Regions from separate parts of the Homo sapiens genome. Here region 2 is linked to region 1. Evidence: fine-mapped expression QTL. A gene starts in region 1. The other region holds a variant in brackets. All regions are shown on one strand. Distances are between the middles of the regions.

The links. PIP is the estimated chance that this variant, and not a neighbour inherited with it, causes the effect.
Region 2: its variant is fine-mapped to the expression of PDLIM1 in whole blood (INTERVAL, PIP 0.96).

The regions. Positions count from the first base shown.
Region 1 is chr10:95,288,731-95,294,105 of GRCh38, reverse strand. PDLIM1 (PDZ and LIM domain 1) reads left to right here and starts at 3,103. Exons shown (of 7, transcript NM_020992.4): 1 at 3,103-3,286. The coding sequence starts at 3,191. RefSeq lists enhancers at 453-542, 4,267-4,586 and silencers at 1,033-1,102, 2,746-2,825, 2,876-3,265, 3,316-3,415, 3,436-3,545.
Region 2 is chr10:95,266,088-95,271,462 of GRCh38, reverse strand. It overlaps PDLIM1 (PDZ and LIM domain 1), which reads left to right. Exons shown (of 7, transcript NM_020992.4): 3 at 2,601-2,685. Among named protein-coding and RNA genes, the nearest start is that of PDLIM1, 22 kb to the left of the region's middle. The variant T/A (reference allele first, on the strand shown) is at 2,807.

The DNA of each region.
Region 1 (5,375 bases):
TTATTTTTTAACACGGTATACGAATAATTTTGTTGCACTCTTTTTACATATTTTGAAAACACATTTCCCTGTCTCTTCACAGTCTTCCTGGTTATTTTCATGCTGCATACTCTTCCCTCTTACGGCCATACCATATTTAGCCACTTTTCTGTTACTGGTTGATTCCAGTTTTTTGTCATTATAAATAATGCAGCTATAAATATCTGTATACATACAGCATTTTTCTTTTTAAAAATTATGTCCTTGGAATTGTTGCCCAGAAAGTGGATGACTGGGTCAAAGGGCTGACTGTTTTATAGCTCTTGTTATGTAGAGCCAGACTACAACCGAGGACATTTAAAAACAAAGCAACTGAGGACTCAAGTCTCACAGACATTTTGCTAACACATTAGTGCACTATGTCTGTATAGACTATTGTACGGAATAAACACTTATTGACACCTACTGTGATTGAGGTCCATGCTAGCAGGGCACTTGGAATGAATGAAAGGCAGTCTCTGCCTTCAGAAGCACAGAAGCTGTGACTTTTCAACCCTTTTCTCCTTCTAGGACAGAAAATATTCAAGATGGTTACACATCTAGGGACAGATTCAGAATTCGGTGATTCCTGCAAATTCTGCAGGGACTTGAAACACAGTCATGCTTTCTAATCAACAGAATCTTAAACAAAGAGAATGTATTTTTGGTGTTCATAAAGCAGGTGGCTGGTTACTGGCTATAACACCATTCTTTTTCTCAGGTTCAGGAAAGAATATCAGGTTGCAAGAGGTTGAGAGGGATGTATAATCATACAACTCCACTTTCATTTCCTTTTTTTTTTTTTTTTTTAGACCGAGTTTCGCGCTTGTTGCCCAGGCTGGGGTGCAATGGCGTGATCTCGGCTCACCACAACCTCCACCTCCCGGGTTCAAGTGATTCTCCTGCCTCAGACTCCCGAGCAGCTGGGATTACAGGCATGCGCCACCACGCCCGGCTAATTTTTGGTATTTTCAGTAGAGATGGGTTTCTCTATGTTGGTCAGGCTGGTCTCGAACTCCAGACCTCAGGTGATCCGCCCACCTTGGCCTCCCAAAGTGTTGGGATTACAGGTGTGAGCCACCGTGCCCGGCCCTCCACTTGGATTTCTAAAAGCAAACAAACTATTCCCAAACATAGGCATTTGTGCTGTCACACAATTGGACAAGCAAGATAATCTTTTTATGTGTAAATCTGTGCACAGGGCTCTTCAGTAGGTAGGCCAGGATCACAGGGAGACAGAGCTGCACAGGGAACAAACTCATTGAGCATGGGCTCTATGCCAAGCACTGTGCTGGGGCCTGGGTACCAGGATGAATGGGTGCCAAGAAAACTGCGAAGAAACTGGGCCCAGAGAGGGTAAGTGGTCCTGAGGATGGCCAATGTGTTATATACATTAAGTACTATGTGCCAGGCACTATTCTAGGCACTGGGGCACAGCAGTGATCTAAACAGATAAAAACCCCTGTCCTTATGGAATTAATGCTTAAGAGTGGGGGTGGAACAAATAAATATACAAAATATAGAGAATGCCAGATGGTGATACATACAAAAGAAAAAAATAAGGCAGGGGAAGGTAATAGAGCATTCTAGAGAGGATATCTTAAATGATGCTCAGAGATGACCTCAGAAAATGACATTTGCATTTTTTTTATTTTTTAGTTTTTGAGATAGGGTCTCACTCTGTCACCCAGGCTGGAGTACAGTTGCACGACCACAGCTCACTGCAGCCTTGACCTCTCCGGCTCAAGCCATCCTCCCACCTCAGTCTCCCTAGAAGCTGGGACAGGTGTGCCCCACCAAACCTGGTTAATTTTTATTTTTTTAAATTTTTTTGTAGAGACAGGGTCTTGCCGTGTTGCTGGGGCTGGTCTAGAATTCCTGGGCTCAACTGATCCTCCTGACTCAGCCTCCCAAAGTGCCGGGATTCCAGGCGTGAGCCACGTGTCCGGCCCCTAGAAAATGACAGAGAGTGGTGGGGATGTCTGGGAGAACAGCATTGCAGACAGGGCCCTGAGGCAAGGCCCTGAGTTAGGAGCAAGGAGCACAGCCTGGCAGACTGGGGGGCAGGTGAGGAAAGGGCAGGAGGAGTTGGGGTCAGAGAGGGAGTTGGGGCCATTCTAGGGGTGGCCTTGTAGGCATTGTAAGGATCTGGGTTTTCACTGGTGGTGAGGTGGGGACGCCATGGACAGCATGAGAAATGGTCTGGTCCGGCGTGGAGAATGCACTCCACCGGGAGGGCGTCAGGGGGAGCCTGGCTAGGAAGCTGGTGGGAGGCTGGGAATCCAGGTCCCGGACTCAGCTCTTCTTTTGCATTGACTTGGCCCTTGGCCCGCCCCAAACTTGAGGTTTGAACTGTTGAGGTCAGAACCTACCATGAACTCCAGCCTGGAGGAAAGATTTCTAGGAAGGCCTTGAAGTTCAGTTATAACCTGAGTGATGGTCTCATTAGCATTATAAAAGTTCCAGGATGGGGTTCTGCAGCACTGGGCCCGGGCAGTGGTCCAGATGCTGACGAGTGGTGTAGCGTCGGGCAAGTCTTCTCACCTACTGAGCAGACTCAGTTACTTCATCTGTAAAATGGGACTAAACGTCCCGGTTGCCTCAGCATCAAATGAGATCGTTCGAAAGCACCTTTTAAACATCATTACCGATTACAAAAAGCAAATGGGAAGTCGGAGCCGACCTCAGAGGGCTGACTTGGCACAGCACTTCAAATTTCTCGTTTTACAAAGCACGAGGCGCGAGTTTGTCTCGCTGTCAGGACCTGCTTCCCTCTCACCTAGCACCCGCCCCGGGCCCGAGAGCCGCGGTGCGGCCGTGCGTACAGGAGGGAGGGAGGCGGTGTGGGGTCCCGGGCAGAGCTGCTGAGAGCCCCGGCCCCGCATCTGACTCGCGCTCTCTCGGCGGGACTCCGGGCCAGGGCCCCCAGGCCGGCGCGCAGGGCGGGGAGCGGCTGCGGGCGGGAGGACGGGCGGGGCGGCGGGCGGCTACGCGGCCTGGGCGGAGCCGCCCCCGCCCTGGCCCTCGCGGTTGCCCTGCCCCCGCCAGCCCCAGGCTCCCCGGGCCCGCGCCGCGCCGCTCTTTCTCCGACAGCCGCCGGGGGTGCCCTGCAAGCTGTTCCGCGCGTCCTGCCCGTCTGTCCCCGCGGGTCGTCGCCCGCCACAGCCGCGCCATGACCACCCAGCAGATAGACCTCCAGGGCCCGGGGCCGTGGGGCTTCCGCCTCGTGGGCGGCAAGGACTTCGAGCAGCCTCTCGCCATTTCCCGGGTAAGAGCAGCTGGGACGTGCGTGGAAGCGGGGCGCTATGGGAGGTGATATGCGGAGACTGGGGCCCCGCGGGCGCGGTCGGGGACGGAGTCGGAACCGCAGCCGGGCGCGTCCAGGTGCGCTGTTAGTTGAGCGCTCTCCGCGCGCCCGGGCCCCGCCGCTCCCCGCCGCCCCTTCGCGGAGGCTGCGCTCCCGGGCTGGTCGGCCCGCCGCGGGCGCGCTCCGTGTCCGCCAGAAAAAAAGAAGGCAGTTTTCGTTCTTTGGCCCCGGAAGCGCGGCGGGGCGGGTGTTAGTTCTTTGTCAACCAGCGAGGGGACGAGGGTCCCCGCAGATCCCGCGCGCTGGGAGATGGCACTTCTCCCTTCTTCCCAGATCGCAGTGCAGCCGAACGCAACAGGAAAGACCTGGAAAGTGAGGTGGGGTGGGTGGGAAGTTTACTGGGGTGGGGGGCAAGTGGGATTAACCTAAAAAAACAACCGAAACACGCTCTTTGGACTTGACCCACGGCCGAGGCTCGCCCCTCGAATGGCTTTTGGAGAATGTGCTGGATTCGGGAAATAAACACAACAAACAAACTCAAGTAAACCCTCTTGGTCATTCTCCCCTCTGCAGAACGTGGCCCCGCCGTCATTCTTCCTAGCATTCCCAGATTATCTCTTTCCCCTCCCCGCACCAGCCCTTTTTTCTCAGGGCATGAGTAGATACTGCGATGGGGTGTCCACCTGGGGTGGGGTTGAGGTGCTTGAAATCTAAGAGGGGCTTCGGATCTTTAGAAGGACTCACGTTGAATCAGGGGCCACCAGAACCATTGCCCCCCTAATAAAGTGAAACCCCCAGGGAGACCCAGACTCAGTGTTCAGAGGTCTGGGCTTTGGCCATTTAATCTGGCCAAACACAGGTTGATGTCCCACTAAGAGATGTCACGTTCAGTGCTTGGGCACCAAGAAGAGACTCAGTAAGTACCTCGAATGAGGAAAGGGAGAAAAAGAAGTCCCCTTTCTCCCCACCCATGGCCACTCCTTGCCTGTAGGCGGCACATTCCATTCTTGGGCTCATCTGCCTGCTGAAGCTGCCCTTCAGCTTGTCTCCCAGACTTTCTAAACATCCTTCTTTTTCACTTGGGGTTGGGGGAAGGGTGGAGAAGAAAGGGAAATATCCTTATGGATCCTTTTGACTCAAGCTCCTGCGTCCAGCAGCTGAAGGAGTTTGGTGGGAGGTGCAGGAGAAGAATTGGTGGCCTCCTCTTGACTTGTCTGCCAGCCACAGTCCTACCCATGCTTCTTTCCCGGTTGGCCTGGCCCAGTGAGGAGGTCTTCTCTATCTCACCCCCCTAAAAGAGTAGGCGGGCCAGTTTTTGGGCCTTATCTTCCACCTGTTTGCCTCGTCCCACAGAGACCTCTGATTATTCTCAAAGGTACACACTGCCTTTCCAGCCACCAGCCTAATTCCTCAAGCGCAGGAACTGTGCCTTCCCCAGAATCGTCCCCGAGCCTGGTAGCAGACCTGTACCTGGCCGGGCTGGGTAAATCCTTGCAGGCTTATTAATAAATGCTTGTCCAGGGAGGACATTGTGTCTGCACATTTCAACTCGCTTACCTCATAGTCCATTTGTCCCTGTTCTTTGTGTCTATAATTAACCTGTCAGCCCTCTCCACTTCTGAGATTTATATATGACATGAAACCCTTTTTTAAGTAGTGGAGGATGTATTGGCAATCTGTTAAAAGGGCAGTTACTGCCTTTCACTTTAGCTGCTTTTAAAAGTCTTAATGCATGAGTGAATGATGGAATGGGGTGGAAAACACCACACTGTGAATTCATTGGTTTTTACCTTCATATATTCACTCATTTATTATTTATATTATTTATTTATGGCGTGTGCACGTGTTTAATGAGCACGTATCATATTCCAGAAACTGTGCAAACGCCTCAGAAATGAGAGGGCACAGCTCCATTCTCAAGGTGTTCATGGTCTAGTGATGGAAACTAATCTTTATAATGCCCTTGGCAGGTGCTTTAATTGAAAAGTGGAAGTGACTCAGAAGAGGTAACATTTTCATGCTGACAGTAATTTATTTGTTTCTCTTCAGC
Region 2 (5,375 bases), 23 kb after region 1:
CCTCTATTTTTTTTTTTTTTTTTTTTGAGACGGAGTCTCACTCTGTTGCCCAGGCTGGAGTGCAGTGGTGCAATCTCAGCTCACTGCAACCTCTGCCTCCCGGGTTCAAGTGACTCTCCTGCCTTAGCCTCCTGAGTAGCTGGGATTACAGATGTGCACCACCACACCCAGCAAATTTTTGTATTTTTAGTAGAGATGGGGTTTCACCATGTTGGCCAGGCTGGCCTCGAACTCCTGACCTCAGGTGATCCACCTGCCTTGGCCTCCCAAAGTGCTAGGATTACAGGTGTGAGCCACCGTGCCCAGCCCCCCTCTGATTTTCACGGTGCTTATGATGTGGGCTTCTTTCAGTAAGATACTTGCATTTTCACTTGATCCAACTCAACCAAAATTTTGAGTAAGTAAAATGTCCTGGCCAGGTGCGGTGGCTCTCTTTGTAATCCCAGCACTTTGGGAGGCCGAGGCAGACAAATCACTTGAGGTCTGGAGTTTGAGACCAGCCTGGCCAACATGGTGAAACCCTATCTCCACTAAAAATTAAAAAATTAGCCAGGTGTGGTAGCGTGCACCTGTAGTTCCAGCTACTCGGGAGGCCGAGGCAGGAGAATCACTTGAACCCAGGAGGCAGAGTTTGCAGTGAGCTGAGATGGCGTCACTGCACTCCAGCCTGGGCGACAGAGCGAAACTCCATCTCAAAAAAAAAAATGTCCTTAGGATGCTGCTGCTACTGCATTGTGCTGAGCAGTGGGTACCATGCCAGGAGATTGCAATAACAGAGAAAAACTTGAACACATTAGCAGCAGAGTACTGAGTGTAACTTTAGGTACATGACAAGCAAGGAGCGCTGGGGATAAAAGAATGAATGAGGGTAGCACCTTGGGAGCTGTAATTAGGGTAGAATTTCCATTCTTCTTTCATTTAGCCTTGGAAGGGGTCCCGCAAAGGCAGGATTTCGGAAGTGATTTGGTTCAACCCTCAGTTGGCTCCCTGTTTCCTACTGCATCAAATTCAGATGTTTCATTCTGATCACCTGTTATCTCACTAACCTTAGCTGCCACAGCTCTTTGTCATGGAGCCTTTGGTTAGATTCTCATCTGTGAAGTATGTTTTTTGCTTTTTTTTTTTTGCTTTGTGGCACAGGACTGGCAGGTGGATCGAGTGTGGGGGAGTATATAAAAATATTTTGTACACTTCAGAGACCTACCCCATGAGAGGTACACTGTGTTATTACTACCCCCTCAAAAGCACATCTGCCCTTCATTCTCATCTCCATTTCTATCTTTGTCCAAATCCTCTCCTTCAAGCCCGAGTTCAGGACATTCATTCATTCATTGATTAATTGATTTTTTATTTGTTTACCGGCATGTTGAAAAGGGACATCTTGTATATCTGGCATAGACATTGTGACAAATATAAAGTTAAGTATGGCCAGGTATGGTGGCTCTAGTCTGTAATCCCAGCACTTTGGGAGGCCGAGGTGGGTAGATCACCTGAGGTTAGGAGTTCAAGACCAGCCTGGCCAACATGATGAAACCCTGTTTCTACAAAAACACAAAAAAATTAGCTAGGGATGATGGCAGGTGCCTGTAATCTCAGCTACTCGGGAGACTGGGCTGGGAGAATCGCTTGAGCCTGGGAAGCGGAGGTTGCAGTGAGCCAAGATCACGCCATTCATTGCACTCCAGCCTGGGCGACAGAGCGAGACTCTGTCTCAAAAAATAAATAAATAAAATAAATAAAGATAAGTATAAATATTTTCTACCTGCAAGAGAGGAAACAACGACACTAATGAAAACTGAGACTAAAGTAAAATCATTGCTCTGTGGTTGGTACAAAGAAAATAGTTTATAAGAGCAAAAGAGGGGCGTTCTTCTCTTTTTTTTTTTTTTTTGGGATGGAGTCTCACTCTGTCACCCAGGCTGAAGTGCAGTGGTGCTATCTCAGCTCACTGCAACCTCTGCCTCCTGGGTTTAAGCAAGTCTCCTGCCTCAGCCTCCCGAGTAGCTGGGATTATAGGCGTATGCCACCACACCCGGCTAATTTTTGTATTTTTAGTGGAGATGGGGTTTCACCATGTTGGCCAGGCTGATGTCAAACTCCAGACCTCAAGTGATTTCCCCACCTCAGCCTCCCAAAGTGCTGGGATTACAGGCGTGAGCCACCACGCCCGGCCAAGAGGCATTATTTTCATTTGGGTCAAACAGGCTTCACAAATAAGTTGGTTATTTGGTCTGGACCAAACACACTGGGTTGAGATAGAGGAGAAGCCCATTCTATCCTGAGCAGAGATAGGGCAGTGTGAGTCATGCTTAGGAACATGGAGGAGACCACACTGCTGGTGTCAGCTACCCAGAGTGTGGTGAGGGAGGATGAAGTGCTTGGGAAGCCCCTTGGGGCTATGCTGGGGAGCCATCAGCCATGGATGTTATCAGATTGGGGTGTTTAAAAGATCAACCTGGTGGCAAATGGAAGGTAGAGCTGATGGGAGGGTGCTAGTTCAGTGCCTAGTCCAGGAAAGAGGGGGCATTTTTCCAGTTTGTCTTTGGTATATATTATTTATTTTACATGAGTGAAACAGCAGCTTTGTTAATCTGTTGCAGATCTGAACATAAAGTCTGGTCTCCTCTGGTGACGGAGGAAGGGAAGCGTCATCCATACAAGATGAATTTAGCCTCTGAACCCCAGGTAAGTTCTTGCTCATCGTTGCCGCTGCTCTCACCACCCAGCACTTTGCCGTTTCTGACACTGCTCAGCACATTCCTGTTTTTCCTGCCCTGGAGGCCTGGGGATAAGACCCTTCACTGTC[T/A]CTGCTGGTATCTGGCTCTTGTTCAGTTCTTCCCGTAAGGGAACTGCAGGAGGATAGGGCTGGAAAACCCCAGGGCAGTGACGCTGTGTCCTGGGCTGGAAGCAGGGGGTCGGAAGGCGATAAGGGAAGCCGGTGGAAGCCTTCCTGCGTGGGAAGGGTTGGCAGGATCACAGTGAAGTCAAGGAGCTATTCAGCTCGTTATGGATTTCAGCAACAAATGAATCATGACAGGGATGAAAATAAGTTTAGGTCTGGAGGCCTAGAGCCTAGAAGAAATCGGGGAATATGTAATAGGAAGCCCTGCTTCTCCCCACTGTATGCCCCTGTCTGGTTTCCATGAGCCATGGAGTGGAAATCTCTATTTTTGTTACAGTGAAACTTCTAGTGAGACTTTAAAATTACTAAAATAAAGCAGCAATTAATATAAAAAAAAGCAGTACATAGTGTACAATTTGTCACCCAGATAGAATTTCTCAGGACAGTAGACTGCCCTAAGATCCCATATTTGTGAATAAATCTCTCAGTAGTTGGATTATTGGATTGTAGGTGATTTTATTTCTTTCTGCCTTATGTGCCTCTTCTAAATAATCTACAAGGCATGGGTATTGTTTTTGAAATAAGGGACAAACTTAGAGATGTTTAGAACATCTTTTGTAAAATTCCTCACACCCAACATGCTACTTGTCTCAAAGTATGTGTCTGTTGGATACATTAATGAATTAGTAATGATAAACTAGGTATGTTGATAATGCCTTTTGAAAATTTTACACTGGTTTGTGATGGTTATGCATTTGACCCAAGTTGAAGATTTGAAATTTAACTTATTTTTCTAAATTTGGGATACTATTTAGTTTTTATGGTGAATTAAGATGTAATTAAAATACAATATATAGCTAGCTATCTTTTATACATAAAACAGAAACTTGTATGAAGTTGAACTCACTTGGTATATTAGTGTGTGTTAATTGGGTGGTTGGATATAAGTCATATTTTCTCAAATAGAATCCATTAAAATTTCAAAAACGAAGTCACATAAAATTTTTGCCATTAAGATAGTAAAAATAATTATTAAAAATCCCAAGAGTCATTTTAAGGATCATTTTGCATCATTTCAAAACTGATGTGAACATATTCTTCTATACAACTCCTCTCAGGAAAGTTCGTAAAATGGCACTTGGTCTATACACTGGCAGTTGTGCAAACTAATTTAAAACATGCCACAGTTAGTTTCAGTTTCCTTGGGAGTTCTCAGCTACTTCATTAAATTTACCATAAATGTTAAATTTTAATTGTTAAATTTTAATTTTTACATATTTTATAACACACAAGGAATGATTTCGTTTTAACTTGGTCTATCTGAAATCCTCATTTTCATGTAAATAAGGTAATTATGTAAATTTCAGTTATAGTTTTCATTTGTAGTATATTTGAATTTTCATTTTAAATCTGTAGTTACCTGTATTAATCTTTTGAAGGTAGTTCTCTTCAGATTACAAAAATTCTCAAATACTTTAAACCCTTGTATTTTTCTTGTGATTCTAGTAATGCTTTATTACTGTAAGAAAAACTTCTCACCCATCATTTTTCCAGTCTTTTACTTCCAGCCATTCTAAAGTAGAGGATAAATGAGTAAGAGCAGAGTTCATCTATAATAAAAAGATCTGTTGGTTCATGTAATGCCAACCAACACCCCAGCTTATCTGAGGTCAGCATAGTTACACACCTAGTTTGTACTTCCTCATTATTGAGTTTCCTTGGAGACTGATAAATACAAAGCCCAAACAATTACATCATCCCTTCTAAAAGGCAAGCCCTGAATCTGCCTGCTTTCTGGAAAGACCAGTCAGTATTCAGATGAGGGTAGAGATATTCCTTTTATGTACAAACCAGATGCATTCTTGAAAGATTCTTTAGAAAGTGAAATCATCCGAATTTTCAACCTGAATTTTCCATTGACTTCCATTCTAATTGGAAATGTGTTTCGGTGGAGGGAGAAGGGAACAGACCCTGGTTGAATATGTGCCACGAGCCAGGCACTGTACTTGACACTCTAGTAACTCACACAAATCCTTGTAAAGAAGGCTTTATCTTCTTCATTTTAAAGATGAAAAATGGGCTTAGAGGGGTATTCCTTGCCAAACAGGAAATTGCAGGGAAAAATTGAGCCAAGGCGGAAAAATAAAGACCCTTCCTTGGGGCTCTGCATCCTCTGCTGCTCCTAGGAATTGCCATGGTGATGGAGAGAAGAAGAAAGAATGACCATCCTGGCTGCGGCACATGTAGGCAAGGGTACCAGGCCACCCATCTGTAAATCTCTGTCTTCATGACCATAGCCTTTAATTACTATATATTATTTATTTGGGTAGCTGTGCCATAAAATTTACTTAACTACTCTTTGATAACTGCTGAAGTTTTGTGTTGTTTTTTATTTTTTGTTATTTATTTTTATTTTTTATTTGTGAGATGGAGTCTTGCTCTGTCACCCAGGCTGGAGTGCAATGGTGCAGTCTTGGCTCACTGCAACCTCTGCCTCCTGAGTTCAAGTGATTTTCTTGCCTCAGCCTCTGAG